2 separate regions of the Homo sapiens genome follow, and region 1 is linked to region 2. The links come from fine-mapping of genetic effects on gene expression. A gene starts in region 2. The other region holds a variant in brackets. All regions are shown on one strand. Distances are from middle to middle. Region 1 holds the start of LINC02680 (long intergenic non-protein coding RNA 2680). Region 2 holds the start of RAB18 (RAB18, member RAS oncogene family).

Region 1 (16,686 bases), 57 kb after region 2:
AAATAAATTTTAAATACTTTTTATTTTAAAATTTCATCTTTTTTTTAAAAAAAATCTTTTTTTGAGCTAATTATAGATCCGTGAGAAGTTACAAAGATAATACAGAGCATTCCCATGTACCCTTGATCCAATTTTCCCAATGGTTATGGCTTACATATCAAAACTAGGAGGTCAACCTTAGTACAAGGCATGCATGTACTTCTGGGCCATTTGATCACATGTGTGGATTAGTGTAGTCACCACCACAATCAAGATACGGAACAGGCTCATCCCCACAAACGTCTCTCTTGTTCTGTCCCTTTACAGTCATGCTTCCTCCTCCTCTTACTTTCCCTAACCTTTGGAAACTACTAATTTGTTCTCCAGATAGATAATTTTGTCATTTCAAAATTATCATATAAATGGAATCATATAGTATGTGATTTTTAAAATTATTTTTTTCTTTTTAGAGACAGGATCTTGTCTGTCACCCAGGCTGGCGTGCAGTGGTGTGATCATAGCTCACTGCAGCCTTGAATTTCTGGGCTCAAGTGATCCTCCATCTTCAACCTCCTGAGTAGCTATGACTACAGGTGCATGCCACCATGCCCAACTAATTAAAATTTTGTTTTAGAGACAGGGTCTTGCTATTTTGCCTAGGCTGGTCTCGAACTCCTGGCCTTAAGTGATTGGCCTCTCGAAGTGTTAGGATTACAGATGTGAGCCAGTGTGCCCAGCCAGCATTCGATCTTTTAAGATTAGCTTTTTCCACTTGGCATAATGCTCATGATATTAATGCAAGTTGTCGGGCATATCAACAACTTGTTTTTTATTGCTCAGTAGTATTTCAAGGCATGTATGTTCCACAGATAGATTTAATCATTCACCTGTCATAGGACACTTTGATTGTTTTCTGTTCTTGACTATTACAAATAAAGCTGCTATGAACAATTGTGTACAGATACTGTGTGGCCAGAAGTGTGATTGGTTGGTCAATATCCTTGATTTTTCATTCTCTATGATTTTCTTTTGATTTATCGTAATTTTTAGAAAGTTCATTAGTTGGCTTACTTCATTTATTGTTAGTTTTTCTTTTTAGTAATAGAAGCATTTAAGATATTTCCTACTGTAGTATAGAGTTTACCTATGCCTAGATATTTTTATATCAAGTATTCTTTTTATTCGTAATATCGGTGTTTTTTTGTTTTTTGTTTTTTTGAGACAGGGTCTCACTCTGTTGTTTAGGCTGAATGCAATGGCACAATTATGGCTCACTACAGCCTCTACCTTCCGGGCTCAAGTGATCTCCCATCTCAGCCTCCCGAATAGCTGGGCTTACAGTCTTGTGCCACCACACCTGGCTAATTTTTAATTTTTTGTAGAGATGAGGTTTCACCATGTTGTCCAGGCTGGTTTCAAACTCCTGGTCCTAAGCAATCCTCCTGCCTTGACCTCCCAAAGTGCTGGGATTCCAAACATGAGCCATCTTGCCCAGACTGTAATATCAGTTTTAAGTACCTCTTTGGATAGGAACTATTTTGAAGAGTATGCCTTAATTTCATATTATTCTGCCTTTAGGCTATTATTTTCCTTCTTGTTGTAAACTTCTAGTTTATAATCCAATTATGGTTAGAAAACGTGAGACAAAATCTCTCTATTTTTTGAAATTCATTAAGGTTTTCTTCGTGGCCAAGAATTCAGTTTGTTTTTTTTTTTCTGACTGGCTTGTTAATATTTTGTGATTACTTATTTTAGACTTATAGTTGGATAATACAGCGCGGCTAAGGGCAAGACCAGTTCATTGGACATGCTGGTCTATAAAACCGCCTGACTCTGATTCGAAGCTGCAATGATGTTGGAGTATGTTGGGTAGCCCAGTTTGTGGCATCTAAAATTTTTCGAAGTAATAGAGAGGTGTGATATGAAGAAGGAGTGAAAAGTACTTAGCATTCAAGTTGGAGAAGATGACGACCAGGAAGAAATACGATAACAGAAAGAAAAAACACTGTTATTTACTGTTTTGTAAGTGCTAGGTCCCATGCTTGGCTTTTACTCCTATTAATCATTTAAACCTTCGCAAAAGTCCAGTGAGTAAGTGTGACAGTTTTTATTTTACAGAGACGGAAACAGGAATTTAGAAAGATTAAAGAACTTTTCCAAGGTCACAAAGCTAACAAATAGAGTTGGAATTTTGTCTGAATTTTTTTTTTTTTTTTTTTTGGGTGGGACGGAGTCTCGCTCTGTCACCCAGGCTGGAGTGCAGTGGTGCAATCTCAGCTCACTATAACCTCCACCTCCCGGGTTCAAGCAATTCTTCTGCCTCAGCCTTCTGAGTAGCTGGGACTACAGGTGCCCACCACCACCCCCCGCTAATTTTTGTATTTTTAGTAGAGATGGGGTTTTGCCATGTTGGCCAGGCTGGTCTCGAACTCCTGACCTCAGGTGATCCACCCGCCTCGGTCTCCCAAAGTGCTGGGATTCCAGGTGTGAGCCACCGCGCCCGGCCTTGACTGATTTTTAAAGCTACTTCATACATATAAGAAGTTTAATTTATAGGATTTGTGGAATACAACGTTTTATACAGATATGCGTATTAAGTAAAACACAGATTATTCACATCTTCTATAACATTGTAACTTTGTGTACTTTGTCAAATTCTGAAAGAGTTGTATTAAGGTTATTATCATGACAGATGATTTTATCACATTCTTATAGTTTTGGAATTTTTAGCTTTATGTTATTTAGTTCATGAAGAAATACAATGTGTATATTCTTTATCATTGCATCTTTTGCCACTACATAATATTCCCTCTTTTCCTTGTTTAATTAGTTTCAGCCTTGAATTGTGTCTAATACGATAATCTTACAATCATGTCTTTTTTATTTCATTTTTAATAAAATTTTCATCTTTATAAAAGAATATAGGTTACGTAGATACATTGTAAAGAGTAATATGATAAACACCCATTGAAGTCCTACTGTGTGTGTCTGTGTGTGTGTGTGCGCATCTATGCACATTTATGTGGTATAACCTATTATTTTATAACTTATTTTTGGAGGTTCCTTAAGTTTCTATGTAAACTCACCGTGGTGAAGAAATTGAAAGCAGACATTTTACTTTCAGATTTTCTCTTCCAACTTTCTAAATATTTGAAGGACATGTGAAATACAAATATGGAAATTCAGATTTGTTTTTAAACTTTACTAAGATTTGTTGAAGTGTGAGCCCAGAGTACAGAGCTGGGGTGGGATCAAAAGTAGGCGAACAAATTTGTAAATAACTTGCTTTTATCTACAAATTTCCTGGGGGACAGTAGTACCTGCTTAAAGCATTAAAAACAAACAAACAAAAACCATGGAAATGCCAAAACTCACCAAGTTTCAAATGATGAAGATGCGATTATTAGAAATCCCATTCTGTCTCCAGTGAAGAATATCATTCATAAAAATTACATTTTACACTTTGAGGTAATTTTTTCTAGATCAAAATCCACACAATGGCACTTCTACAAAAACACCCAACACGGTTTTTCTCTGCGAGTAAGATATAAAAGCTCCTTGGAAATGAATTTATAATTTTATTTTAGTTCTTGCGCTTGCCCATGTCTTCTTCTTCATTATTTTGAAGAATTGAGACAAGGTCTCACTTTTGTCGGCCAGGCTGGAGTGCAATGGCACAATCATAGCTCACTGCAGCCTTGACCTCCCGCATTTTTTTTTTTTTTTTTTTTGTAGAGCCGAGGTCTTGCTATGTTGCCCAGAATGATATTGAACTCCCAGCCTTAAGGGATTCTCCCACCTTGGACTTCTCAAGTGTTGGTATTACAGGCATGAAACACTGCACCAAGCTAGAAATACTTGCCCATTTCTATTGCTCGGGTCACGTGGCTTAAGATAGAACTTGAAAGTTGAGAGACGGCGGAGCGTGGTGGCTCACCCCTGTAATCCTGCACTTTGGGAGGCCGACGCGGGCAGATCCTTGAGGTCAGGAGTTTGAGACCAGCCTGGCCAACATGGCGAAACCCCGTCTCTACTAAAAATACAAAAATTAGCCGGGCGTAGTGGCGTGCGCCTGTAGTCCCAGCTACTCCGGAGGCTGAGGCAGGAGAATCGCTTGAACTCGGGAAGCGGAGGTTGCGGTGACCTGAGATCGCGCCACTGCACTCCCGCCTGGGCGACAGAGCGATACACCGTCTCAAACAAACAAACAAAACAAAAAAAAGTTGAGAGACAATAATACAAAAAACAAGAAGGAAAGATCTTTTGATTTTCAGTGAGGATGTTGCAGGGAAGGTGGAAAAGGAGCATCAAGACCCTTTTAAATTTTGTTATTCTCTAAATTTTGCAATTTAGCTATTAGCTTTGTAAAGTGTACATTCAGGGCAGAATTGTAGCCTGTCGGTGTTAGGTTATTTCTCTGCAGTCAGTTTGTGGAACATAATTTGACTGATGATAGATCTAAATCCACGCAGTAATCACTCAAAATGAGATGATATTTATTTCATATGCATGTGCTATATAATACTATGGTTATCAAAAATTGAATTAGGAGAATTGCGCCCAACGAGAATGGGCTTGTCTATGTGAGATTCATGTGGTTGTTATGCTTTCTTTTTAATAGTCCAACAAAAGAGAAAAGGCAAGATATAAATGAGTGATTCCGGAATCCATGCACCTAGAAAATGATTGTTTTGTCTATCTAGATTGGTTTTCTTTTGCATGTGAATTTCCAATTGTTCCAGCAACATTTGTTGAAAAGACTTTCTTTGCTTCATTGCATTACCTTTATTTTGACAAAGATCATTTGGCTATTAGAAACCCACGCGCTTGGAAAATGAGATCTCTCAGTTCTCCATGAGGTGGCAGCAGCTCCTCAGTAACATGAGAGACCCTGTGGTGAAGGTCAAGTTCAAAGACGCCTTAGGCACTGTCCAGCTGAGAATTTTCACAGGCTGTACTTTCTTTGGCCAGGTTTCCTCTGTGACTTTGTTTCTTTTATTTTCTTTTTGAGAAAATTCAGCAACAAATCACCTTTTGATTATATCTGGGCCTTCCTGTTGTAAGATGGACTGCTTATACTGGTCAACAGACAGATTTCACAGCAGTCCTGGGGCCAAATTATAGTTTAGCAGCCACAGAGATTGACTTAGCTGGAGGTGGAGGACATGGAAGCATAACCGATCTTGCAATTTTGGAGGAGAGAATTGCTTCCTTTCTATAGCATACATTTATCTTTTTATAGAGAAGTTTTAGGGGGTTGAGTAGAGGCATTACAGATAAAATGAGGATGCTACCAGTGTTTTATAAAACTGAGCCAATTTAGGGTTTTAAGATTACTTATTTATATATTTTTATATTTTTCCTTTAAAACCATTTTAGAGATTATACTGTGTTTCCTTTTGTGAGAGAGAAAACTGTTTTCTGGAAGCACTCAGTTAAAATAAAGAATTTAAAATTGCGCTTCATTTTCCATCAAACTTTTAAAACTAAATTGTTTGATGATTTTGACTCTAATATATTGAATACATTTAATTCTAATAGGCTTCCTTCTCCAAATGTTTCAAATTATAAGACAATCCTTTCATTGTATTCTTCATCAGAACCTGGCACTGTCCCTCTTTCTCTGCCTTTCTTTGCTTAAATTACGCTATTCTGGATGAGTAATGATAGACATACTTGATCTAAGTATATGTCTGTAATGTTAAAGTCATTTTTAGAACGTTCAGAAGCCCTTTTTCTGCTAACATTCTTTTTTTTTTTTTTTTTTTGAGACGGAGTCTTGCTCTTTCACCAGGCTGCAGTGCAGTGGCGCGATCTCAGCTCACTGCCACCTCTGCCTCCCGGGTTCAAGCGGTTCTCCTGCCTCAGCCTCCCGAGTAGCTGGGACTACAGGTGTGCGCCACCACTCCCAGCTAATTTTTGTGTTTTTAGTCGAGACAGGGTTTCACCATGTTGGCCAGGATGGTCTCAATCTCTTGACCTACTGATCCGCCTGCCTCGCCTCCCAAAGTGCTGGGATTACAGGCATGAGCCACCGTGCCTGGCCTCTGCTAACATTATTGATCACACTTACCACTTCAAAAATCTTGGTTCTAGTGATAGTCTACATTTTTATTGTTGTTGTTTCTATTTTCTTAATTTTTCTCCTAGAGTGATTAATTCCATTCTGTACTTTTTCACAAATAGACTGTTTTTAGAGTAGTTTCTTGTTTACAGCAAAATTGATCAGGAAGAACAGAATTCCCATATATCCTCTGCCATCACACATGCACAGCCTCTCCATTATCAACAACCTACACCAGAGAAGTGCCTTTGTTACCATCAATGAACCTATAGAGATGCGTGATTATCAACAAAGTCCATAGTTTACATTAGAGTTCACTCTCGGTGTTGTACATTCTGTGAGTTTTGACAAGTGTTCAATGACATGTATCTACCATTGTGGTATCATACAGAGTAGTTTTACTGCCCTAAAATTCTCTGTGGGCTGGGCGTGGTGGCTCACGCCTGTAATCCCAGAACTTTGGGAGGCTGAGGCAGGCAGATCACCCGAGGTCAGGAGTTCGAAACCAGCCTGACCAACAAGGTGAAACCCTGTCTCTACTAAAGATACAAAATTAGCCGGGCATGGTGGTGGGGGCCTGTAATCCCAGCTACTCAGGAGGCTGAGGCAGGAGAATCGCTTGAACCCAGGAGGCAGAGGTTTCAGTGAGCTGAGATTGTGCCATTGCAGTCCAGCCAGGGCAACAAGAATGAAACTCCATCTCAAAAAAAAAATTATCTGTGTCTATTCATCCCACCCTCTCCTTTAAGACCTGGCAATCACTGATTATATATATATATATATATATATATATATATATGTGTATATATATATATATATATATGTGTATATATATATATGTGTGTGTGTGTGTGTGTGTGTGTATATATATATATATATATATATATATATATATATATATATATATATGTATATATATATTTTTTTGAGACAGAGTCTTGCTCTGTCACCAGGCTGAAGTGCAGTGGCAAGATCTCGGCTCACTACAACCTCCGCCTCCCAGGTTCAAGCCATTCTCCTACCTCAGTGTCCTGAGTAGCTGGGACTACAGGCATACCCCACCACGCCTGGCTAATTTTTGTTTTTTTTTTTTTTTTTGGTAGAGGCAGGGTTTCACCAGGTTGGCCAGGATGCCTTCGATCTCCTGACCTCATGATCCGCCCACCTTGGCCTCCCAAAGTGCTGGGATTATAGGCATGAGCCACCATGCCTGGCCAATCACTGATATTTTTATCATATCCATAGTTTTGCCTTTTCCTGAATGTTGTATAATTGAAATCATTACAATATGTAGGATTTTCAGATTGGCTTATTTCACTTAGTAATATGCACTAAGTTTCCCCCATGTCTTTTAGTGACTTAAATCATTCACTTCTATTTTAGCACTGAAGAACATTTTATTCTCTGTCTATACCCATTTGTATTTCTGCTCATCTACTGAGGGACATCTTATTTGCTTCCAAGTTTTGGCAATCATAAATAAAGCTGTCATGAACTTGTGCATACAGGTTTTTGCATGGATGTAAGTTCTCAATTCATTTGGGAGAATCCCTGAGACTGCCAAGCTTTTACAAAGTGGCTTTTTGCATGCCCACTAGCAATGAATGCTAATTCCAGTTGCTTCACATCCTCACCAGCATATGATGTTGTCAGCATTTTGGGTTTTGGCAATTCAAATAGATGTGTCGTGTTAGCTTGTTGTTGTTTTAATTTGCAATTCTCTAGTGACATATGTTGTTGAGCATCTTTTTATATGCTTATTTACCATTCTTGTGTCTTCTTTGGTGAGTCGTCAGTTAAAGTCTTTTTTAGTTGGGTTATTTGCCTTCTTATTGTTGAGTTTTAAGAGTTCTTTGTGTATTTTGAATAACAGTTCTTTATCTGATAATGTCTTTTGCAAATATTATTTCCCAATCTGTAGCTTTTCTTTTTATTCTATTGACTTGTCTTCTGCAGAGAAGAAAATTTAATTTTAATGAAGTCCAGCTTACCAATTATTTCTTTCATGGATCATGCCTTAGGTATTGAATTTATAAAGTCGTCGCCATCCCAAGGTCATCTAGGTTTTCCCCTGTATTAGCTTCTAGAAGTTTTATAGTTTTGCATTTTACATTTAGGTTTATAATCCATTTTCAGTTAAGTTAGTTAGGGGTGTTATGTCTATCTAGATTGACTTTCTTTTGCATGTGGATTTCCAATTGTTCCAGCAACATTTCTTGAAAAGACTTTCTTTGCTTCATTGTATTGCCTTTATTCTTTTGTCAAAGATCAAAGTCTTCAAGTCAGATAGTGGCCATCCTCTGACTTTGTTCTTCAATATTGAGA[A/C]GGCCCTTCTGGGTCTTTTGCCTTTGGGATTTTGGAATTGTATTAGATTTATAGATCAAGTTAGAAAAACTGACATTTTGAAACCATTAATTTTTTTGTATCCATGAACATGGAATATCTCTCCATTTATTTTGTTCTTTGATTTCTTTCACAGAATTCTGTAGTTTCTCTCATATAGATATTATACAGATTTTGTTAGATTTACAGCTAAGTATTTCATTTTTGGTGGTGCTAATGTGAGTAATAATGTGTTTTTAATTTCAAATTCCACATGTTCCTTGCTGTTATATAGGAAAATGGTTGATATTTGGAAGGCAGCTCTGCTCACCACTATACCACTGAGACATGATTGACATTTGTATGTTAGCCTGTATCCTGTAACCTTGCTATAATTTCTTATTAGTTCTAGGCGGTTTTTTTTTTGTCAATTCATTCAGATTTTCTACATATACAATCATGTCATCTGAAAACAACCATAGTTTTATTTCTTCTTTCTCAATCTGTATACATTTTATTTCCTTTTCTGGTCTCATTGTATTAACTAGGACTACCAGTATGATGTTGAAAAGGAGTAGTGAGAGGAGAGCCTTACCTTTTTCATGATTTTAGTGGGAAAACTTCTAGTTTCTTGCTATTAACTATGATGTTAGCTGTAGGTTTTTGGAGATTTCTTCTTATCAAGTTGAGAAGTTTCCTTCTATTACTAGTTTTCTGAATGGTTTATCATGAATGCATGTAGGATTTTATTAAATGCTTTTTCTGCATCTATTTGTGTGATCATGTAATTTTTCTTCAGCCTATTGGTGTGATGGAATTACACTAATTAATTTTTGAATGTTGAAACTACCTTGCACACCTTAGATAAATCTCACTTGGTCATAGTGTGTAATCTTTTTATACATTGTTGCATTCTTTTTGTTAATATTTTATTGGGGATTTTTGTTCATGAGAGATATTGATCTGTAGTCTTCTTTCTTAATAATGTCTTCATCTAGTTTTCGTATTAAGGTAATGTTGGCCTCATAGAATGAGTTAGGAAATATTCCCTCTGCTTCTGTCTTTTGGAAGAGATTGTAGAAAATTGCCATAATTTCTTCCTCAATATTTGGTAGATTCACCAGTGAACCCATCTGGGTCTGGTGCTTCCTGTTTTGGAAGGTTATTAATTATTGATTTACTTTCTTTAATAGATATACGCCTAGTCAAAGTATTTCTTCTTTTGTGAGTTTTGTTAGATTGTGAAATTTCAAAGAAATGGGCCCATTTTTTAAAGTTATCACTTATACGTAAAGTTACATAAACATACATATATATATATATAAGCATAGATAATAAAAGACATTGTTTTTATTACTATTATTCTTATTTTGAGACAGAGTCTCACTCTGTTGCCTAGGCTGAAGTGCAGTGGTGTGATCATGGCTCACTGCAGCCTCAAGCTGCTGGGCTTAAGTGACACTCTTAGCCTCCCAAGTAGCTGAGGCCACAGACATATACCACCATACCCTTCAATTATTATTATTATTTTGAGGCAGGGTCTTGCTCTGTTGCCCAGCTGGAGTGCAATATTGTAATAATGGCTCACTGCAGCCTTGACCTCTGGGGCTCAAACAGTCCTCCTGCCTCAACCTCCTGAGTAGCACTACAGGTGCATACCACCATGCCAGGCTAATTTTGTGTTGTTGTAGAGACAGGGTCTCATTGTGTTGCCCAGACTGGTCCCAAACTCTTGGGTTCAAGAGATCCTCCCACCTCAGCCTTCCAAAGTGCTAGAATTACAGGTGTTAGCCACTGCACCCAGCCTCTATTATTATTTTGAACATTTATTGGTTAGAAAACTGAGTAATAAGAAAAGTAAAAGTTTTTGTCCAACCATATCTTATTCATTTTCCAGTGCTAATCTTTTCTTTATGTAGATCTGAGTTTCTGACCTGTATCAGTTTCCTCCTCTTTGAAGAACATGCTTCAACATTTCTTGCAAGGCAGGTCTACTGGCAACAAATTTGATTTTTGTTTGTTTGAGAAAGTTCATTTCTCCTTCACTTTTGAATAATTTCTCAGGGTACAGTATTCTAGGTTGGTGGCCTTTTATCTCAAAACTTTAAACACTTCCCTTCACTCTATTCTTGCTTGCCTACTTGCTGAGGAGACATCACATGTAATTCTTATCTTTGCTCCTCTAGAGATAAAGTGTTTTTTTTTCTTTTGCCTTCTTGAAACACTTTATCTTTGATTTTTCTTCAGTTTGAATATGATATGCCTACATGTAGGGTATGTGTGTGTGTGTGTCTGTGTGTGTGTGTGAGAGAGAAAGAGAGACAGAGAGAAAGAGAAAGAGAAAGAGAAAGAAAGAGAGAGAGAGATTTATCCTGCTTGGTGCCCTCTCAGCTTCCTGGATTTGTGGTTTGGTGTCTGACATTTATTTGAGCAAAATTCTCAATGATTATTGCTTCACTTAATCTCTTCTGTTCCTTTCTCACTTCTTCGTTTTCTGTTTTTCCAATTTGAATATTTCTATTGACATTTCCTCAAACTTAGTGATTCTATCCTCAGTCATATTCAGTCTACTAACAAGGTCATCAAAGGCTCTTCATTTCTCTTACAGTGTTTTTGATTTCTAGCATTTCTCTTTTTAAAAATTGTAGTAATAGCATTTAACATGAGACCTATTCTTTCAACAAACTTTTAAGTATTAGCTATAGACATTTAATTGTACAGCAGATGTCTGGAACTTATTCATCTTGTATAACTAAATCTTTATACCCAATGAATATCAACTCCCCATTTCCCCCTCCCCGCCGCCAGCCTCTGGCAACCAGTCTTCTTACTCTCTGTACGGGTTTGGCTTTGGCTATTTTTAGATACTTCATGTAAGTGGAACCACTTATATGAAGCATCTAAAAAAGTATTTGTTGTCCTGTGACTACCTTATTTCACATAGTGTAATGTCCTCCACATTCATCCATGTTGTCTCATACTGTAGGATTTCCTTCTTTTCTAAGGCTGAATAATACTTCATTGTTTGCATATATTTTCTTTATCCATTCATCTGTCAATGGACATTTAGATTATTTTCCACATCTTGGCATACATAAATAGAGTTCCTTATCCTTAGTTCAGGTCTTCGTTAAAACCTGAACTTCTCCATTACCACTGTAATCTGTAACATTAACATTCTCTAATGGATCTCTCTGAATCTGACCTTCCATCATTCAGTCTAACTATTACATTGTTAGTAGTGTATTTTTCTAAAAGGCAAAAATAATAATCCTTGGTAATAGATGAGTAGCTCATAAGAGGCTTAGTCCATTTTGTGCTGCTAAAACAGAATACCACAGACTGGGTAATTTATAATGAACAGACATTTATTGGCTTATAGTTCTGGAGGTCGAGAAGTCCAATATAAAGTACTAGCATCTGGTGACGGCCTTCTTATGCATCATAATGTGGTGGAATACATCATATGGATGAGAGAGACAGCAAGAGGGGACAAAACTCATCCTTTTATAAGAAACCCACTCCTAGGCTGGCGCAGTGGCTCATGCCTGTAATCCCAGCACTTTGGGAGGCTGAGGCAGGCAGATCACCTGAGGTCAGGAGTTCAAGACCAGCCCGGCCAACATGGTGAAACCTCATCTCTACGAAAAATACAAAAATTAGCCAGGCATGGTGGCATGCACCTGTAATTCCAGCTACTCAGGAGGATGAGGCAGGAGAATTGCTTGAACCCAGGAGGCGGAGGTTGCAGTGAGCTGAGGTCACACCACTGCATTCCAGCCTGGGCAACAGAGTGAGACTCCATCTAAAAAAAAAAAAGAAAAGAAAAAAAAGAAAAGAAAAGAAACCCACTCCTGTGATAATAAACCTACTCTCACAATAATGGCATTAATCCATTTATGAGGGCAGAGCTTTTACAAACTAAACACCTCTTAAAGGTCCCATCTCCCACCACCTCCACATTGGGGATCAAGTTTCCAATACATGAACTTTAGGGGACACATTCAAACCATGGCATAGGTTAATCTTTTACACAATTGAAATTCACTAGAAAGGTGAACAAACAAGAACATGGAATCCATAGTCAAGACAAACAAACGCTGAGATATTTGAATTACCAGACAAAATCTTGGAAGGAGCTATTATGGTCATCTTCAAAGACTTAAAGGGAAATGACCACAATGACTAAACAAACTTATAATTTTATTGGAGAAATGGATAAAAGAAATCAAATGGAAATTCCAGAAATGAAAAGTACTGTATCTGAAATGAAATGTTTTCTGGGTGGGTTTAGCCAGTAGACTAGAGATGGCAAAAGAAACTAGCATGAACTGAAGATGAGTGAACTGAAGGTAAAATCAAAAGCTAGAGAGAAAATTTTGAAAATAGCCAAAGGAACAAGGATACAGATGGTGTCTTATATCTCATTTGAGCAGTGGAGCCCAGAGATAATGGAACAACATATTAAATGTGTTGAGATGAAAAAAATTTGCTTGCCCAGAATATCATATCCATCTAGAATATCATTCAAAAGAGAATGAAGAAATTTTGTGATCAATGAAAGCTGAGAGATTTTTTTTTTTTTTTTTTTTTGCCAGCTCATCAACACTACAAATCTAAAGCTGAAAGCTCAGGGTACGGTAATGACAGATGGAAACTTCATTACAGAAAGCAATGAAGAACACCCAAGTGGTAAATATGTGGGTAAATATGGAATATCAGATATCTATTTTTATCTTACTTTAAAAAAAGAAAACTGTTTTTCAATAGCAAAATAACAGCTAGTGCTTATTGAGATATTTCAATGTTATTATGTCATTTCACACACATTAATCCACTTAATTCTCATAATAAACCTCTTTTATAGAACATTATCTCAACAGCTGCAAAATATGCATTCTTCTTTTTGTTTTTTTTAAAAACAAGGTCTTGCTCTGTTGCCTAGGCTAGATTGCAGTGGCATGATGATTGCTCACTGCAGTCTCAAACTCCTGGGCTCAAGCAATCCTCCTGCCTCAGCCTCCCAAGTAGCTAGGAATACAGGTGCGTACCACCATGCCAGACAATTTTTATTTTTTGTAGAGATGAGGTCTCACCATGTTGCCCACATTATTCTTAAAAGCATATGGAATGTTCACCAAAATGTATCATATCCTGAGCCATGAAACAAGTCTGAATACATTTCTAGTAATAAAATCTTACAGAGTATTTTTTCAGACTTTAACAGAATCAAAATAGAAATCAGTAACAAGAAAACTTCTTTATTCTTTTTATTTTATTTTAAGTTCTGGGATACATGTGCAGGACGTGCAAGTTTGTTAATAGGTAAATGTGTGCTATGGTGGTTTGCTGCACCTGTCAACCCCTCATCTAGGTATTAAGCCCAGCATGCATTAACTATTTTTCCTGGGGCTCTCTCTGGCCCTGCAACCGCCGGCAGGCCCCATTGTGTGTTGTTCCCCTCCCTGTGTCCATGTGCTCTCATTGTTCAGCTCCCACTTATAAGTGAGAACATGTAGTGAAAACTTCTTTATTCTCATCAAAAATTTCAGTAAGATGTATCTGCTATGAGTTTCTCCTCACAACTTCTGCTAGGGTTTCAGTGGACTTGTGTTCTCTATTTTCTTTGTCTCTTAACCTTTTCCCCATCACTTTATTACTTCTTATTTTGCACTGTATCCTGGAGGATCACTCAGCTTGCATTTCCAGGTCGCCACTTTAATCTTCACATATTTCCTTTCTGTATCTTAGCCCACAGATTGAGATTTATCTGTGGAGTTGGGGGATGACAATCATTTCTATTTTCCAACCACTCTGATCACTTTTTCAAAGAAACTTTTTCTTGTTGTGATAGCTTCTCCTTTCTCTGAGGATACTAATGATTATTTTGCAGTCTTCTCTTGTTTCCTTTGTAAATTCTGTTTCCTCATGTGTTAATTCTTTTTCACATTGTTATTTTCTCAGCTATCTGGTGATTCTTAGATGTGTGTTTATATTGATGAGGGAAGATTACCATTTCAGTACTTTTAAGTGAAAGGTATTCCCTCCGTAAGTTGAAAGTGCTTGGATTCCTGGAAGTGAATGTGGATTCCAAGGTTATACAGGGAGGGTCACAGAGGATGTGCATGAAGCTGAGCTTCCCTCTAGGGAAGTGGTACCTTGTCTTGTGGGTGCAGGTCTGCTATTTTTTTTTTTATCAGCTGCAATTCATGTGTGAAGTTACCTCATTTCTGTGGCCCCAGCGTTTTTGTCTCTGAATCTTTCAAATCAGGACTCGTAATTTGTTTAGAGGAATGTACTGTCAACATATTGAAAGAAAAAAGAACAACGTTTCCACATGGTCCCCTAGTTTGTAATCACAGAAACATGAACTTTGAGAACTGGAAGGGCTATCAAGAGTTGAGGGAATGGAGTCATAAGTCAGTAACTTCTCACCAGGGATGGAGACATGTGTTAGTTTCCTGTTGTTACCAAACAAGTAACCACAGACTTAGTGGCTTGAAACAACACAGATGTATTGTCTTATAGTTCAGGAAGTTAGAAGTTCTAAAATCAAGGTGTTGACAGGGCTGCATTTTTCTGGAATCTCAAGGGGAAGGTCTACTTCCTTGCTGTTGTGGGCTTCTAGAGGCCGCCCACATTCCTTGGCTAGGGTCTCTTCCTCCAGCTTCAAAACCAGCAGCACTGTCTTCAGATCTCTCTCTTCCTCTAATCTCTGCTTCTGTCATCACATCCCCTTCTCTGAGTAAGATCCTCCTGCCCCTCTCTTGCAAGGACCCTTGTGAATACATTGGCCCTATCCAGATAATCCAGGGTAATATCTCCATCTCGAGGTCCTTAACTGTATTAGTCTACTCTCACGCTGCTGATAAAGACATACCTGAGTAATTTATAAAGAAATACCTGGGTAATTTATAAAGTAATTTATAAAGACATACCTGGGTAATTTATAAAGAAAAAGAGGTTTAATGGACTCACAGTTCCACATGTCTGGGGAGGCCTCACAATCACGGCAGAAGGTGAAAGGCATGTCTTACATGGCAGCAGACAAGAGAATGAGAGAGTGCCAAGTGAAAAGGGAAACCGCTTATAAAATCATCAGATCTTGTGAGACTTACTCAGTACCACGAGAACAGTATGGGGGAAACCACCCCTGTGATTCAATTATCTCCCACGGGGTCCCTCCTACAACACGTGGGAATTATGGAAGCTACAGTTCAAGATGAGATTTGGGTGGGGACACAGCCAAACCAGATCCTTAACTAAATCGATTTTGCAAAATCCCTTTTGCCATGTGAGATTCACTGGTTCTGGGGATACAGATGTGACCATTTGGGGGAGACCATTATTCTGAGGTGTGTGTCTCTTTTTGAGCTGGTGGGGCACAGCAGTGGGTGGTCTCAGGAGCACTGAGGATGAGGCATCTTAGGTTTGAACATTAGAGTCTCTAATTGTTCCTCTACCCTTTCCCTGTTGGTCTTCCTACTTTCCCCTATCTCCATACTCTCACAATGATAAGCATTCTTACTGAGCCCGTACGTTCTCTTTTCCAGCTGGTCTTGGCTCATTCCTGCTCCTCCCTGCTAGTATCTCAAAGCCACCTTACAGGAATGTAAAAGCCACACTACCCAATTACTGCAACTCAAAGGATAAATGTCAACATCTATACAAAGTATTGTCAGAAAGAGTGTGAAAAAAAGGTAAGGTTCTTTGTGGAGTCTGTACAGGCCTGTAAAAATCCAATTTATGTACCAGAAATGACTACATATGTTATGCAATAGAAATACCTCTACCAAATCCTGACATGTATATGTGTTGGGCCTGCATTTAATCGAGGGTCGTCTCTTTAGATTATGATGTGAAATTCCCATTTGAGGTCTTTGATGGGAACCACATGGCAGAGCTTTGCTGCTTAGCTGTAGAGCGGGGCAGCCCCGCTGCTGCACAATGCATCCTGTGTAGCTTTCATGTTTGACAGATGGCCTGCTTTTCTGTGTATATTATCAGATGCCTCCTTCTCAAGCTGTAAAATCTGATGATAGAGCCCAAATTTAATATATTCAACCTGAGCTGTTGATAGAATTAAAAACTTATCAGCCAAAGATGTCATGTTTACTCAACATCAGAAACAGAGTACTTTTTAATGTTGTTTTTGTTGATCTGGCCAATATACTCTCCAAAACGTTGTGCTCTGAAGAAAGGGCAGAGAAGCAAAAGAACAGATAGAGGAGCAGTGGGAAGTGGTGTCAAGTCCTAGCAAGGTCATTCCATTGTGGAGGGAGGCCAGCTGACATTTCATTTTGTAATACTTAACAAGACAG
Region 2 (16,686 bases):
CTCTTTCTCTCTTGCAATTCCCCTGTCTTGATAAACTGGCTCTGTCTAGGCAGCAGGCAAGGTGAACCCACTGGGTGGTTACAATGTCTGGTGAGGATTTCAACGAATGTAGATGTAATGTACAAGACAGCCATAACAGAAGAGGGGGAAGTTACAGGAATCTATGAAATAAATGAAAATATATCATATTTAAATTTGTAGGCTGCAGCTACATCAGTGCTTAGTGGAAATTTTCTGCCATTAGATACTTTATTAGAAGAAAGATCTCAAATCAATAACCAAACTTCCTTATGTAAAACTAGAAGAACAAGAACAAAAAGCAAGCAGTAAGAAGGAACTAAGAAAGATAAGAATAGATATCAATGAAATTGAAAACAGAAAAGAGAAAAATCAATAAAAGTTGGTTCTTTGAAAAGATCAATAGGATAAATCTCTATCTAGCAAGAGTGACACACAAAAAAAGTGTGAAGTCCAAATTACCAATATCAGGAAAGAAATAGGGGAAATCACTACATACCCTGCATACTTTAAAAAGATAATAAACAGCTTCACTCACATAAATTTGACAGCTTAGTTGAACAAGAATAATTTCTAAAACACACAAACTGCCAAAACTGAGCAAGATAAAATAGATAATTCAATAGTCTTGTGACTATTGTAAATCATTAATTCTCCGTTGAAAATTTTCTGAAAAAGAAATCTCCAGGCTCAAATAGTTTTGCTGGTAAATTCTACCAAACATATAAAGAAGGAATAAAACCAATTCCATGCAACTTCTAAAGAAATTAAATCAATAACAAATAACCTTTCAAAAAATAAAGCACCAGGCCCAGATGCCTTCACTGGTAAATTTTACAAACACTTAAGGAAGAGTTAAGTTTGAATTTAGGTCAATTTTCCAAAATCTCTTTTAGAAAATAGTAAAGAAAAGACTTCCCAACTAATTTTATGAGGTCAGCATAAAATATCAAAATTAGACAAAGACAATAGACAGTAGGCCAGGCACTGTGACTCACCCCTGTAATCCCAGCACTTTGGGAGGCTGAGGCGGGTGGACCACAAGGTCAGGAGATCGAGACCATCCTGGCTAACACGGTGAAACCCCGTCTCTACTAAAAATACACACACACACACACAAACATTAGCCAGGCGTGGTGGCGGGTGCCTGTAGTCCCAGCTACTCAGGAGGCCGAGGCAGGAGAATGGCATGAACCCGGGAGGTGGAGCTTGCAGTGAGCTGAGATCACGCCACTGCACTCCAGCCTGGGTGACAGAGCGAGACTCCATCTCAAATAAAAAAAAAAACTCCTTCCCCCTCAGAGTGTTATATTTGTTACAATTTATGGAGCTACACTGACACATCATTATCACCAAAGAACATAGTATATATTAGGGCTTACTCTTGCTGTTGTACATTTTATGGGTTTGAATAAATGTATATGGTATGTATCCACTATTACAGTATCATGGAAAGTGGTTTCACTGACCTAAAAAATCCTTTATTCTATGCCTATTCATCCCTTCCTCCCTACTAACTTCTAGCAACCACTGATCTTTTTACTGTGTCTATAGTTGTACCTTTTCCAGAATGTAATATATTTGGGATTATATAATATGCAGACTTTTTAGATTGGCTTCTTTCACTGAGTAATATGCATTTAAGTTTCCTCCATGTCTTTTTATGACTTGTTAGTTCATTTCTTTTCCATGCTGAATAATATTCCATTCTCTGGCTCGAACACAGTTCACATATCCATTTTCCTACTGAAGGATATCGTGGTTGCTTCCAAGTTTTGGCAATTGTGAATAAAACTGCTATAAACATATGAGGGCAGGTTTCTGTGTTAAAAAAGTTAAAACATAAATTTTAAACTTCTTTCGGCAAATACCAAGGAGAACTGAATTGCATGCTGAATTACATGGTAAGAGTCTGTATATGTAGTAGTATAAGGAACCATCAAACTGACTTCCAAAGTTGCTGTACCATTCTGCATTTCCACCAGCAATGAATCAGAGTTCCTGTTGCTCCATATCCTACTCAGCATTTGGTGTTGTCAGTGTTCTGGATGTTGGCCATCCTAATAGGTGTATAGTGGTATCTCATTGTTTTCTTTTTATTTCCCCAATGACATATGATTTGGAGCATCTTTTCATATGCTTTTTTGCCATCTGTATATCTTTTTTGGTGAGGTATCTCTTAAGGTCTTTGGTCCAGTTTTTGGTCGGATTGTTAGTATTCATATTATTGAGTTTTAAGGTTTTTTTGTACATTTGGATAGCAGTCTTTTGGCAGAGGTGTCTTCTCATTCTTTTAACATTGTCTTTCTCAGAGAAAATTTTTAAAGTTTTAATTATGTCCAGCTTATCAGTTTCTTTCACGGATCATGAAACGTCTTCAGTGTTGTATCTAAAATGTCATTGCCATACTCAAGGTTATCTAGATTTTCTCCTATGATACCTTCTAGGAGCTTTATAGTTTTGTGTCACACATTAGGTCTGTAATCCATTTTGAGTTCATTTTTGTGAAAAGCGTAAGGTCTGTTTCTAGATGCATTTTTTCATATGTGGCTCTCCAGTTTTTCCAGCACCATTTGTTGAGAAGATTATTTTTTATCCATTGTATCGCCTTTGCCCCTTGTCAAAGATCAGTTGACTATTTATGTGGGTGCCAGGCTTTTATCATATCGACTCTGCCATCTTTTCCTCCTGCTCATGCTATCATGGATTGATGCCTTTTGCCCACAAAGCCTCTTAAAGTTGTGTAATCAGAGTTGGGTATGGTGGCATGCACCTACAGTCCCAGCTCCTGGGGAGGCTAAGGTGGGAGGATCCTTTGAGCCCAGGAATTAGAGGCTGCAGTGCTTTATGATCATACCTGTGAAGAGCCACTGCACTCCAGCCTGGGAATTAGCGAGAAACCGCCTCTTAAAAAAGTTTCACTGGCTGGGCCCGGTGGCTCACGCCTGTAATCCCAGCACTTTGGGAGGCCAAGACGGGCGGATCATGAGGTCAGGAGATTGAGACCATCCTGGCTAACATGGTGAAACCCCATCTCTACTAAAAATACAAAAAATTAGCTGGGCATGGTGGCGGATGCCTGTAGTCCTAGCTACCCGGGAGGCTGAGGCAGGAGAATGGCGAGAACCCGGGAGGTGGAGCTTGCAGTAAGCCAAGATGGTGCCACTGAACTCCAGCCTGGGTGACAGAGCGAGACTGTCTCAAAAAAAAAAAAAAGTTTCATCATCATTGCTGATGGTAACTTTCCTGAAAACACTAATATTTGTGCCAAAGATGCTATCTCTTAATTCTTCCAAGGAAGTGAGCTTTAGGTGCTCAGGTCAATGAATAAATGAATAGAATGGTTAGTCAGGGTCCCAGCAAGAAAGAAAATCTAACTCAGATATCTCAAGAGAGTATAACCAAAAGACTATTTACAGCAGCATGGCCAGGTTAGGGCCACCAAAAAGTGAGGAACCCAGAAATTAACTTCAGTAGGCAGCCTTTTCCACCCTAGATCTGAGGAAGCAAAGGCAGAAAATAATGTTACCATAGCCCACTAAGTGCTAGGGCCAGGGTGGGAGTCACATAAGAGAAACATGTAATGATCCAGGAGGTCAGATGCTCCTCATTGACTGTGAATTTTATTAGGAAAACAGCATCATTTGTAGGTTGCAGGTTTAAAGTTTTTACTACATCCTATAGAGCAGCAGTGCAACCTTACAGAATATTATCTCCCTGCTGCCACCTTAACTGAGTGGGCAATGGGCCATCCCATTGTCTATCATACTAGCTGCTTCCTGAAGTGGGGTCTGGTGACAACACCAGTGAAGTCCAAGGGCATGCCTGAGCCCACAGCCACACTTCTGCTGTAAAATAAGTTCCTTGGTAGAAGGTGATATTATATAGATTGTAACAGAGAAGGTTGGAAAAGGGTCTTGGGTCAAATGGAAAAAATAGTGCAATGACCTTCTTCTCAGCCCCAGCTATCCTGTCCCACGGGCCCTCAGACAGAGTTGCTTGTGTCAGGCTGCAAGCCTAAAGTAGCTACTCCAGCTCTTGACCCTGACCCCTCTAATCATAGGGCTAAAACCCCACCCAAGTGGTCAAAATGACATTTCAGCTACCTTTTCCACAGAATTTACTTCTAACCCTTCTCTCAAATCCCCAAGCCTTCACCCAAATAATTAAACAACGAAATGAACTCCTCTTTAAACCAGGCATGGTATAATGTGCCTGTAGTCCCAGCCACTTGGGAGGCTAAGGAAAGAGGATCTTTTGAGCCCAGGAGTTTGAGTCCAGCCTGGGAAACATAGTGAAACCCTATCTCTAACGACAACAACAACAACAACAAAAAGTAATCTCTTCCTTGACTGCATACCAAAGCTCCTGTGCATATCAACCGAGGCAAGGAGAAGCAGTACCTGGAGAGGGTGGGGGTTGTTTCGGAACCTCAGCTCAGCCAGGGGCAATGGAGCTGGGGGCGGAGGTGGCAATGCTGTATGACTTCTCTCACTACCAACTCCTAAACTCTAGCCACAGACGCCTGTTACACTTGGACCCAAGCAGTCCTACATAAGCCATGAGTCACAGTGCTCATGTTGGTACCTGTTCACAGAATGTGAGTTCTGCAAGCAGCATTTCTCTTATCTTCATTACTGATGCCGAAGGATGGAGAAAAGTCAAAGGCCTGAATCTGTTTTTTTCTCTCATCTGTTGTCTATCTCTGGGGCTGCCCACTGTAGGCATGTTACTGACAGCAACATGGGATGGGCCTTCTCCATCACATCTCCAAGTGGTTTCGCCATTTCAATTTCTTCCTACATACTGGGCTTGCTCATTGCTCATCCCAAACTTCAGGTATTAAGAATATTGCCATAGACATTCCTTTATGAGGTGATCATATATTTGGATATGGTAAAAATAATTAATACTAGAAGATGGATCCACAGGGAAAAGGGCAGTCAGTTATGTCTGAAACCTAAGAAAGGATTTGGCTGTGTTTTCCAGGGATGTAAGGATAATAGTATATAGAAGAGAACACCTAGGCCAAATTGTTGGTTAGAACACCTAGGCCATCTCCTTGGTTCATTTTTTTAGTGTCTTGCTATCTGTCCTGAATCTTGGAACCACTGCTCTAAAAGAGGTCTGAAAAATTTTGCCTTCAAGGCTCACCTTTACATAAAATTCACTATGGCTGAAACGAAACTCATATTCCTTCTTGTTTCTGTCTTGGGTTTTCTCTCAGATTGGTAGTGCCGAGGCTTGAAACATTAGAGAAATGTTCGATGTTTTTCTTTCCCTTTTCTTTCCCCTCTTCTTCACTAAGCATGGGACAGTTATTCATTGTGTCTTTTAAGTACATCTCTTTATTGCCAGCCCCCATGTGGGGATGTCTTGGCAGTTGTGTATGTTGGCCTGAACCTCAGGAGAAAAATCTCAGCCAGAGATGTAAATTCGGGAGGCCGAGGCAGGGGGATTGCTTGAGCCCAGCAGTTTGAGACCAGCAACATAGCAAGACCCCATCTCTAAAAAAATGTTTTAAAAATTAGTTAGGCGTGGTGATGCATGCCTGCAGTTCCAGCTACTCAAAGGCTGAGGTAGGAGGATTACTTCTTGAGCTCAGAAGTTAGAGACCACCCTGGGCAGCATAGCAATATCCCATCTCTTAAAAAAAAAGAAAAGAAAAGAAAAGAAAAAGAAAGAGAGGAAATGGCCAAGAGATGGAGGAAATCCAAGAGAAAATGATATTGCCAAAGTACGTCAACAGTATTACAGGTTGCAAGAGATAGCCCTGGATTTATTGATGAAGTTTTTGTTTTTGTATTTATCTTGGTGTGAATAGCACAGTGCAATGGTTCTCACACTTTTTGGTTGTACAAATTATAGTATACTCTTAAAAATCATTGAGGACCTGAAAGAGCTTTTGATTGTAAGAACCCCAAAGAGATTACATCTCTTATTTATCCTACTAGAAATTAAAACTGAGAAAATTTCAAACATGTTAATTTACTTAAAAACAATAATAAACCTATTACCAGTTAATAGAAATGTTTATGAAAATAACTACTTTAAAACAGAACAAAATTGAGAACAGTGGCAATGTTTTACATTTTAGGAAATCCCTTTAATATCTGGCTTAATATCATAGAAAACCAGTAAGTTCACATATCTTGTTCTGCCTTCAATCTGTTTTGCTATTACATGTTATTAATATATAGCCTCTGGAAAACTCCATTATATTATCATCAGAGAATGTGCATGAAAAAATAACATATTAACTATGAAAATAGTTTGATCTTGCAACCCCCCTGAAAGGTTTTCAGGGATTTCTAGGGATCTCGGGACCCCAGGGCAGGAGAGCTTGACAATACTGTGAACCTCATAAATAAGATCTTTTTGTCATAATGAAAAGTAAGCTAGATAGACTTGACTGAAGTTTCAAGGGCTATCTGATGAGAAGTGGAGGTTGTTTCATTGACATTATTCTCTAAGGTTAGGAATGGACTCTACAACATTCATTCAATTAATTCATTCAGCATACATTTATTTAGCACATATTATGTGCCATGAAGTACTCTAGATACTGAAGACATACCAGTAGACAAAACAAAATATCCTTGCCTTCATGAGACTTCTAATAAAGTAGTAAAATATATAGTGTATCAGAGAGTGGTTAAATCCTATGCAGAAAAACAATGTAAAGAGGTCTAGAGAATGCTGGAGGGATTTGCATATTTCAGTAGAATGGACAGGGAAGGCCTCTTTAAGAATGCAACATTTGAGCGAAGACCTGAAGGAGGAGAAGCCATTGGGATATCTTTTGAAAGGGCTTTTCCAGCTATTTAACAAATTAATTTCTTAACATTTGAAATTTTATTTATATGTAGTCTTTAATCAAATATCCATTGTATATGACATTAGCTGCAGGTATAAGGAAATAAGACAAGAGAACTGAGGTTTATTGAGTGCCTGCCATGTACCAGGCACTGTGCTAAGTATTATGAATGAGGTTTGGTACCTTCACTAAGATTTACAACTTAATGCAGGAGGCAAGGTGTAGACATACACTTCCTGCAGTATGGGTGTAGCAGTTCTTATGAGGAAGGAGAGTTGACTTGAAGTTGCACCGCCAGAAGTAATGCACCTGACCTACCTGAAGTCTACGCCTCCCTTTCAAGATGAATTAGGGTGCAGAGGGTGCTCTCCACTATAACAGAGGGGAAGCCAGCAAGATAATACCTGATCACACCTTTTATAGAGCACTTTGGTTAACAACATGTCTTCACAAATTAACTCACTTAACCTTCATAACAATAAGAAGCAGATGTTCTAAGAAGTGTTACTGTGTCTCTCAGAGATGGAGAAAGGCTAAGAAAGCTGGGTAGTATGACAAGGCAGTTATAAGGTAGAGCTGGACCTAAATTTAAGATAATCTGCTTCAAGCACAGTGCTTTTCCCACCGCAGTGCAGCTGTTATGAGCAGCTGCCGAAATAAAACAGCTTGATATTCTCCTGACTGAGTCCTCCCACTGACTCAAAAGGAGGGTTAGGTTGAGGCTGGGGCGGAGCTAGACCTCAAGAAGAAGCCAACAAAGTCACACACAGCGCTCCCCACCTGCGCTTGCGCAGGGGAGGAACACGCAGTCCGGAAAAACGCCGGGGATTCTGGGTCGCGCAGCCGTGGAGCTACCTCAAGGCGGAACTGGGGAGTCCAGGGCTTCGGCAGCCTGAACACCCGGTGTGAAAGGAAGGTGGCAGACGTGGAGCGGCGCGCATGCGCAGCAGCTCACTCTGCTGAAGGGCTGAGAGGCGCACCCGGGCGGCCAGCTGGGCTCGGAGCGGAACGGGGTCAGGATGGACGAGGACGTGCTAACCACCCTGAAGATCCTCATCATCGGCGAGAGTGGGGTGGGCAAGTCCAGGTGAGGCGGAGGTGCGGGTCGTGACGAGGGTGGCTGGGCTCTTTCTGCCCCGGTGGCTGCTGTCTCCTGGGCCGCGACGGGAACTGTAAACTGCAGCGGCGGGCTCGGGCCGGCTCCGCTCGCGCCCTCCTCGGCCTCTGGGCCGCGCTCTCCCGCGACGTTTGCTTTCCTCTCCCCACCCGCGCCTGCCTGGTTCCCGGCCTTTGCCAGGCCCAAGTTCTCTGGGTCGCTCTCCCTCCTGTAGCGCCGAGAAAACACCATTCCGAGGGCCGCCGCTCGGCCGGCAGGTTTGCTGCGCGGAGCTCAGGGCGTGGCGGGCTGGTTTGGGCCCGAATCCGGCCGGGGGCGCCTTGCCTCGAACCTCTCGGGGTTCAGGCTGCCTGCCACCCCGAGACCCGGGAGACATAGCTTTCCCACTTGAGGGTTTCTGTGGGGCCTTCTCTAAATACATAATGTCCTCGGGAAGTTTCGTGACGCCTTAGGTCCCATTCCTGGCCTGTTTGGGCGCAGCTTAATGTCGATTCTTTTACTTTTTTATTAGTCGGCTGTGAAAGAACTGGATCTTGTGACTGCTGGAAAATTTCGCTTTAGTGTAAGGTCCGAGTGCTTCAGCCGTGGGCCACCTTTGAAAATAAAATGTAATTGTTATTTCTCATTTTGCCACATCCTGTGGAGACAGAAGATTAGTGTTGTGCTTTCATTTTTTACTTTTTCCTTGGGGAAAATAATATTGACAGTGGAGTTGAGTATAAGGTAAGACATGGATCTAGGTGGATGTTGCTAGAGGGCTGTGATTTCATCCAGGTCTTGGAAGAGAGTTCTCCAGCTGATGTCATTCTTGCCATCTGATTATGAGTAGGTTATGTTCAAGGCCGTCCTGATCCTTAAACCACATTTGCACTCCAGGGGCTGTAATCAGTTTCATATTTTAGCTATACCTTCTGATACACGTATCTTTCAAATAATTTTTTGTATTTCATAAATTGAAATAGCCTTAATTCTACAAACTAGAATGAAAGCTCTCCTCAAATAACTTGTAAAAGTCACTTCATAAAGTCTTACTTTTTAAAAGCTTCTTCAGAATTTGAAAGCTTATGTAATATATTCTGATATTATTTACTTATTTATTTATTTATTTTTTGAGACGGAGTCTCGCTCTGTTGCCAGGCTGGAGTGCAGTGGCGCGATCTCGGGTCACTGCAACCTCCGCCTCCCGGGTTCAAGCGATTCTCCTGCTTCAGCCTCCCGAGTAGCTGGGACTACAGGCGCGCACTATCATGCCCAGCTAACTTTTGTACTGTTAGTAGAGATGGGGTTTCACCATGTTGGCCAGGATGGTCTCCATCTTTTGACCTCGTGACCCGCCCACCTCGGCCTCCCAAAGTGCTAGGATTACAGGCGTGAGCCACCAGTTTGACAACACATTTTCATAGTGTTCCTCATGTAATGTCCTCTGTGTCTACTGGAATGAAGGATTTGCACATACCAAGGAATAGAATAATGAAATACTATGAGTTAGCAAACCAGCATGATTTGTCTGTGTGTGTGTAAAAGGCATGAGTAAAATTATTTACATGATCATCTATTATTGCACATACATATTTGAGTGTTAAAAAGTTAAACGTTGTCTTAATAGGAATTTCACAGCCTTGTGATCTTTCTTTTTCTTTTCTCCTTTTTTCCTTGAGATATCGTTCTCATTTAAGTTCAGGCATATGAAATTAGTGTTTTTGAAGTCAAGAATGGTTGGTTGTCATTTCATGTAGTTCAACCCAATACATGGTTGGTTAGCACTTTTTCTAAATGTATTGCATGGATGACAAGTTAGGGTATGTTAAAATTTTCTGGAAGGTTAACTGGAGTATATAAACAAAATTCCTCTGCTCTACCCGCTGTTTTTTTGAGACAGGGTCTTATTCTGTCACCCAGACTGGAGTGCAGTGGCATGATCATAGCTCACTGCAGTCTCAATCTCCTGGGCTCAAGTGATCCTCCCACCTCAGCCTTTTGAGTAGCTGGACTATAGGCACGAGTCACCATGTCTGACTAGTGTTTTTTTATTTTTTATAGAGAGGAGGACTCACTGTGTTGCCCAGGCTGTCTCGAACTCCTGAGCTCAACAGATCCTCCTGCCTTGACCTCCCAAAGTGCTAGGAACATAAGCATGAGCCACCACAACCGGCCCTACTTCTAAAATTTTTTTCATAGATGGGATTTTCCTATGTTGCCCAGGTGGTCTCCAACACACAGGCTCAAGCCAAACTCCTGCCTCATACTCCTAAAGTGCTGGGATTACAGACACAAGGCATGACACCCAACCGAGGTTCTCCTTGTAGAGTAAGGCCTGTTAAGTGGATTTATCAGTCTCCCTAGTTCATGCCACCGAAACAAAGAAACAAATTTACCGTGGGCCTAATCTGTTTTAAACTTTTTCCTCAATACGTAGCAATGGATTATCAACTGCTCGATGCAGGATTTTGTCACTTTATTTCTTTTGTGAAAGGATTACATATAGTGAGAAAGTTGTCTTATTTGTCTAGCTAGATATACATTATTGGCCTGTGTGATATGCTGTGGAAAACAATCTTAAACACTCTGGATAAGATGAGAATAAATGACTCCACTGAAATAGAAGTCTATGCCTTTTAAAGTGAATTAGTACAAAAACATTTGCTGTGGATATGATCTTAAAGGATTGTTTTAACCAAGTTTGTTTCTATTTCATTACAGAGCTGGAGCTAGTGGAAGTGAGATAGCACTTGTGCTGTTGGGGAAAACAAAGGATATGTTTAATCCGAATTAGTGGATTACTTTCTAGTGATTTCATAGTGTTAGAGTCTAAAGGGTATGTGATAGTAGTCAGGAGATCAGGATTATGAAACTGGGGCTGCCACTTGTGTGACCTTGTGTGTGATACTTGAATGCTGTAGGCCTTCATTTCAAAAGCGAGGGGGTTGGAATAGAAACCTCTCAGACCCTAAATGTGTAAGACTCCAATTCTGTGGCTAGGCCTGGTAAGGTAAAGAGTAGCAGAATATATCAAGAACTGGAAGGGATTAGAGAGACCTATTATCTAAATTGCTGTCCCTCCTTTGCCCCTTGCCTTCCCTTTTTTTTTTTTTTTTGGTGAATTTCATATGTAAATTTAAAAAATGCAGATTAGTTATAATCACACTCTGTTTATTATAAATTTGGTCACATCTAAGTGCCATGGTGGTAGTTACTCCTTCCATCTCTACTTCTGCATGGGAAACATTTTGCTCCTTTAACTTTGAAAATATGAGGGTGTAAATATACAATACTATAAGAATGGTGCTTCTGCCAGGTGCAGTGGCTCATCCTGTAATCCTAGCTACTCGGGAGGCTGAGACAGGAGGATCTCTTGAGGCCAGGAGTCCGAGACCAGCTTGGGCAACATAACGAGACCATGCCTCTAAAAAAATAAAAATAAAAAAATTAGCCGGCCATGGTGATGCACACCTGTCATGCCAGTTACTTGGGGGGCTAAGGTGGGAGGATTAGTGAGCTGTGATTCTGCCACTGCATTCCAGCCTGGGTGACAGAGTGAGACCCTCTCTCTTAAAAAAAAAAAAAAAAAAGTGTGCTTCTTAATTATTTTGAGATTGTCAGTTCTTTTCAAAATCTAATAGAGAAATGGACTCTCTGTCCCTTTCAAAGTCTAATAGAGAAATGGACTCTCTGCCTAGAAAAATGCACACATAGAATTTAGAATACTTTTTGGGCTACCAGGGTACCCCTGTCTAAGATCTGATGTATACCCAGAGCCTGTATTAAAATTTGTTGCTTCACACCATGCCACCAATTCCCTGCCTCTCCTTACAAAGTACTGTTAATAACAAAGGCCATTTAAGGATTAGCAATTATGAGAGAAAAACCTCTGGCTTTGTGTCTGCACATTGCCATATGTTCAATAAATAATACCCAATATCATCATTATTGTATTATTATTATGATATTATTACAACTAGTCTACAAGGTAATCTTATGTTTTTGTAGTAATATTTTCTGTGGTGACCACGTGTAGATATTATGTATCTTTTCTTAAATTATGGGTAACTGAGTATGTTGGGAGAGAAGAAAAATTTTATAGGTAGTCTTTAAGAGTCTTACTAGTATTGTTACCTATGTTCCAAGTAACTAAATATAGTCAAGATGTTAAGTAGATAAATCTAGAATTTGACTCTTCTTTTTTACTTTGATTTTATGATGCTGGTTTTATGGTAAACACAAGAAAACAAAACCAAGTAAGGGAGAGTTAATCGTTCAAATATATTTAATGACACTGGGTTTGGAAACTACCAGGAGGCCATTATGTTTTGCAGAAACTCTATGGACAAAACATACCTCTACCAGCAATAATCACAACCTATAGAAAGAGTCATAAGATTTTTCTATAATTTAGATATCTGATGGCTGTTTCTTTGATTTTATTCATGCAAACAGGTCAATTAGGAGAGTCTTATACTTCAGAAGTTAACATGAGGGAAGATTGAATGACTTTAAAATCAAGGGCTTTAACAAAAGCTTAGATTTTATTTTTGAAGAGTTTCTAATAACTGACACTTCTGCTTCATAGTAAGTAAAATAATTCTGGAAGATGTAAAATCTTAGAGTACCCTTCTAATCTGGTGTCTTTTGCTTTTATCCTTTCTTTCTAGTTTCTTACCATTTCCTAGGTTTAGTCCTTTGTTCTCTCTTGCCATAACCATGGCGGTTGTCTTCCATTGATTTTCTTCCATTTTTTGTTAGTATTAACTTTTCAAAACAAAGAGCAGTACTTGTCTTAACTTTCTTTAAAAGCCTCCAGTAGCCTCCAGTTGCCTACTTGGTTTTACACACTCTACCTAGTGTTTGCCCGAGTCTATCTACTCTGTCCTGTGATCTTTCTTTTAACCTCTCTTTTTACTGTATCTTCTCTTAGGTAGTAGCCGTACTGCGTGTTACAGAATGCTCGGCTTTGATATATTTCTGGTTTTGCTTGAATTCAGAGTGGATTACACAATCAGATTTTTTAAAGCTAGTTTGTTGCATTCTAAGAGACTTTATTTTTTCCCTTTTCATCTATGTCAGTTAAAGCATGACATGCTGCTAATATCATTTTCTCAGAAGGACATACCAGAACAGTTAAAAAACAACTACAACAAAAACCCCCACCTTTTGTACTTGGGGGATTGTGTAGGAGAGCACGGGGAATATATTTCATAGTAAACTACTTTGCTCTTGGGATTTTTAAATTGCCTTTCTGGTAATTTAATTTTTCTGTGTATACCTGCTCTGAGGCAGTATTCCTAGGAACAGGCCTACATCAGTTATTTTTATCTGCATCTAATAATTTGTGACCAAATAATCATGAACACATTTATCATATGATTAGAAAATTCAAGTTCCCAACCTGTCTTTTTAATATCTCTTTCAGCCTGCTCTTGAGGTTCACAGATGATACGTTTGATCCAGAACTTGCAGCAACAATAGGTAAGCCTGTGTTTAAAAATTCTATAGAAATGGCCAGTATTTTCTTGCCTTTGGCCTTTTTAATCTAAATCCTTCTACCTTCCTCTCACCACCCCACTGCCTCCATGTCTGTTGAAATCTTATTTGTCCTTCAAGACTTAATTTTGGTATCATTAAATCTTTGAAGCCTTTCTAGATCTTACCAAGAGAAAATAACTTCCTTATCTGTTGTCTCATGATACTTTATTAAAACTGCTAATGTGATTATCTGTACACACATTTCTCTCCTATACTATGGATTGTCTTTTATTTTGTAATATACAACAGTTATTTGAATACTTATTGTATGCCAGGGACTGCTACTAAGAGGAGGGGTTATAATAGTGAATAACAAACTTGGTCTCTGTCATCGTGGACCTAACAGAGTGTGTTAATTTTGTATGTTCAGCATTTGCTACAGTGTTTGACGTGTATTCTTATCTTCACATATGTATTGATACTAGTTATTAAGGATTGTTAGGAGCAATGATACTTAAATGCCTTTTAAGGATAAGATTTAGATCGCCTGAAAGTGGTTAGTCACACTAACTTATGAGAATATATGAGAAGATAGAGGTAAGTATTTTGGTATCATGTGTTTAGACTGCAGACAACGTAAAGGGATGAAGAGACCACTTGGAATAGTTGAAAGGTAGCTGAGCTGAGTCAGAGCTAGATAATAGTCTTGGTTGACTTTGCCTTGAATTACATGTAATCTTGATGAAGTCACTTAACTTACTAACTTCATCTGTAAATTGGGAGGTTTTGTTAAAATTTCATGATCTGATGAGGAGAATATAGTAAAGATGATCCTAGCATTATTGTTAGGGAAAATAAAGAGTTTCTGTTAACTGGCTTTATTTGTTTTCATTGATTGTATGTCTATTTTTAAAATTTTATTGTGAAACAATTTCAGACTCAAAGATTTGTAAAAATAGCACAAATAATTCTTATGTATCCTATTAAATTACTCCAGATGTTAATGTTTGTCACATTTGCTTTATCATTCTCTCTCTACACACAGTATTCTTTTTTAAAAAAATGAGAGTAGATTGTAGACATGATGTCTTCAACGTCTGCATACTTTAATGTGTATTTCTTAAATGAACATAGATACATTTTATTGTCTATACACAGATTTTATCAGTTGTCCCATTAATGTCCCATATAGCAAAAGACAAATAATTGTTTCGGGTCCAGGATCATACACTGATTTTAGTTATTTCTCTTTAGCCTCTTTTATTTCATTTAATTAATGAATTAATTTATTTTCGAGACAGAGTCTAGCTCTGTCGCTCAGGCTGAGTGCAGTGGCACCAACTCAGCTCAGTGCAACCTCCACTTTTCAGGTTCAAGTGATCCTCCTGCCTCAGCCACCCAAGTAGCTGGGACTACAGGCACATGCCACTGCGCCTGGCTAATTTTTTTTTGTATTTTTGATAGAGACGGGGTTTACCATGTTGGCCAGGCTGGTCTTGAGCTCCTGACCTCAAGTGATCTACCCACCTCGGCCTCCCAAAGTACTGGGATTGCAGGTGTGAGCCACCGCGTCGAGCCTCTTCAGCCTCTTTTAATCAGCAATTCTTCAGTCTTTATTTGCCTTTTCAGGGCCTTGACATTTTTGAAGAGTAAATAATTATTTTGTAGAATGTCTCTCAATTTGTGTATGTCCAGTATGTCCTTAACGGTTAGATTCAGGTTATGCAGTTTTGGCAGCAATTCCACAGAAGTGTTTTTCAGAACATAGTGTCAGTGAAGTTATTATTTTTCCCTTCATAACTAATATATTTCTTGTAGAGAGATACATTGAGACTGTATAGGTATCCTCCTTCTTACACTTTTTGCCCTCCTGTTGTAGCATCCATTGATAATTCTTGCCTGTGACAAGTGATAAGGACAGTATATGATCTTTTCATTCCAACTGTGATGGTTATCAAATGGGGATTTTTTTAAAATGCCATCACTCTGTCTATGTATCTTGTTTGGAATTCTGTAAGTAAGAGCTCTTTTTTTTTCTTTTTTTGTGAGGCAGTGTCTCACTGTGTTGCCCAGGCTGGCCTGAGACTCCTGGGCTCAAGTGATCCTCCTGCCTCAGCCTCCCAAGTAGCTGGAACTACAGCCATGTACCACCATGCCCAGCTCAGGAGGAGCTCATGTTTGTTTGTTTCTTTTTCTTCATATGAACTCATGGTGCCTCTAAATTTTCAATAAATTAGGCATTACTTAGCTTTTGCATGATATTAAGATTTACAGATTTACTCTTATTTGTGTCATAGGAAAGGGAATCATTTAAAACACGAATTCAAAATCCATTGTAATTTGGCTTTGTTGTATTATAATAATAATTATTATTATTTAATTTTATTTATTTATTTTTAGACACAGTCTTGCTCTGTTGCCCAGGCTGGAGTGAAGTGGCACAACCTTGGCTCACTGCAGCCTCCACCTCCCCATTCAAGTGATTCTGGTGCCTCAGCCTCCTGTGTAGCTGGGACTACAGGCATGCACCACCACACCTGGCTAATTTTTGTATTTTTAGTAGAGATGGGTTTTGCTATGTTGGCCAGTCTGGTCTTGAACTCCTGGCCTCAAGTGATCCACCCACCTTGGGCCTCCCAAAGTGTTGAGATTATAGGTGTGAGCCACTGTGCCCATACTGGTGTATTATTTACTCCTATAAAAAATTACTTAGTAGTAAAACCTTATTTTGGTCAGAACCTGCCTGAGTACGTATTGGTATTGGCTAGCCAGGAGGAGAGCAGTAGCAACTGGCAGGAAAATAAACTTGCCTAAAGTTAAAATTTTACTGAAGGAATGAACATACATATAATATTAACTGTCTTCATTACAAACCCAAATGGAATTTGGGGACTTGTGGCATGACAAATCGTGGGTTGTCTTTATTACTAAAAAGGCTTTGTCTTCTGCAAAGACAAATACTAAGATTATAGTATGCTGGTGAAAATATATGTAATTTGTTCCCCAAATAGGCCCTAGATCTTGAATATGTTGAACAAAATATCTTTTACATTGAAGCATCAGATTACTTTCAGCCTTAGGTAATAACATATATATATATATATATTTTTTTTTTTTTTTTGGAGACAAGAGTCTCGCTGTGTTGCCCAGGCCGGAGTGCAGTGGTGCATGATCTCAGCTCACTGCAATCTCCGCCTCCCAGGTTCAAGTGATTCTTCTGCCTCAGCCTCCCAAGAAGCTGGGATTGCAGGTGTGTGCCACCATGCCTTGCTAA

What was found. PIP is the estimated chance that this variant, and not a neighbour inherited with it, causes the effect.
Region 1: its variant is fine-mapped to the expression of RAB18 in whole blood (INTERVAL, PIP 0.97).

What each region holds. Positions count from the first base shown.
Region 1 is chr10:27,553,869-27,570,554 of GRCh38, forward strand. LINC02680 (long intergenic non-protein coding RNA 2680) reads left to right here and starts at 12,319. Exons shown (of 3, transcript XR_007062094.1): 1 at 12,319-13,069; 2 at 15,919-16,065. The variant A/C (reference allele first, on the strand shown) is at 8,369.
Region 2 is chr10:27,496,516-27,513,201 of GRCh38, forward strand. It overlaps RAB18 (RAB18, member RAS oncogene family), which reads left to right and starts at 7,789. Exons shown (of 7, transcript NM_021252.5): 1 at 7,789-7,922; 2 at 13,360-13,415. The coding sequence starts at 7,855. It overlaps LOC124902399 (a long non-coding RNA gene), which reads left to right and starts at 7,930. Exons shown (of 2, transcript XR_007062097.1): 1 at 7,930-8,209; 2 at 8,464-8,577. RefSeq lists enhancers at 7,485-7,754, 7,865-7,924.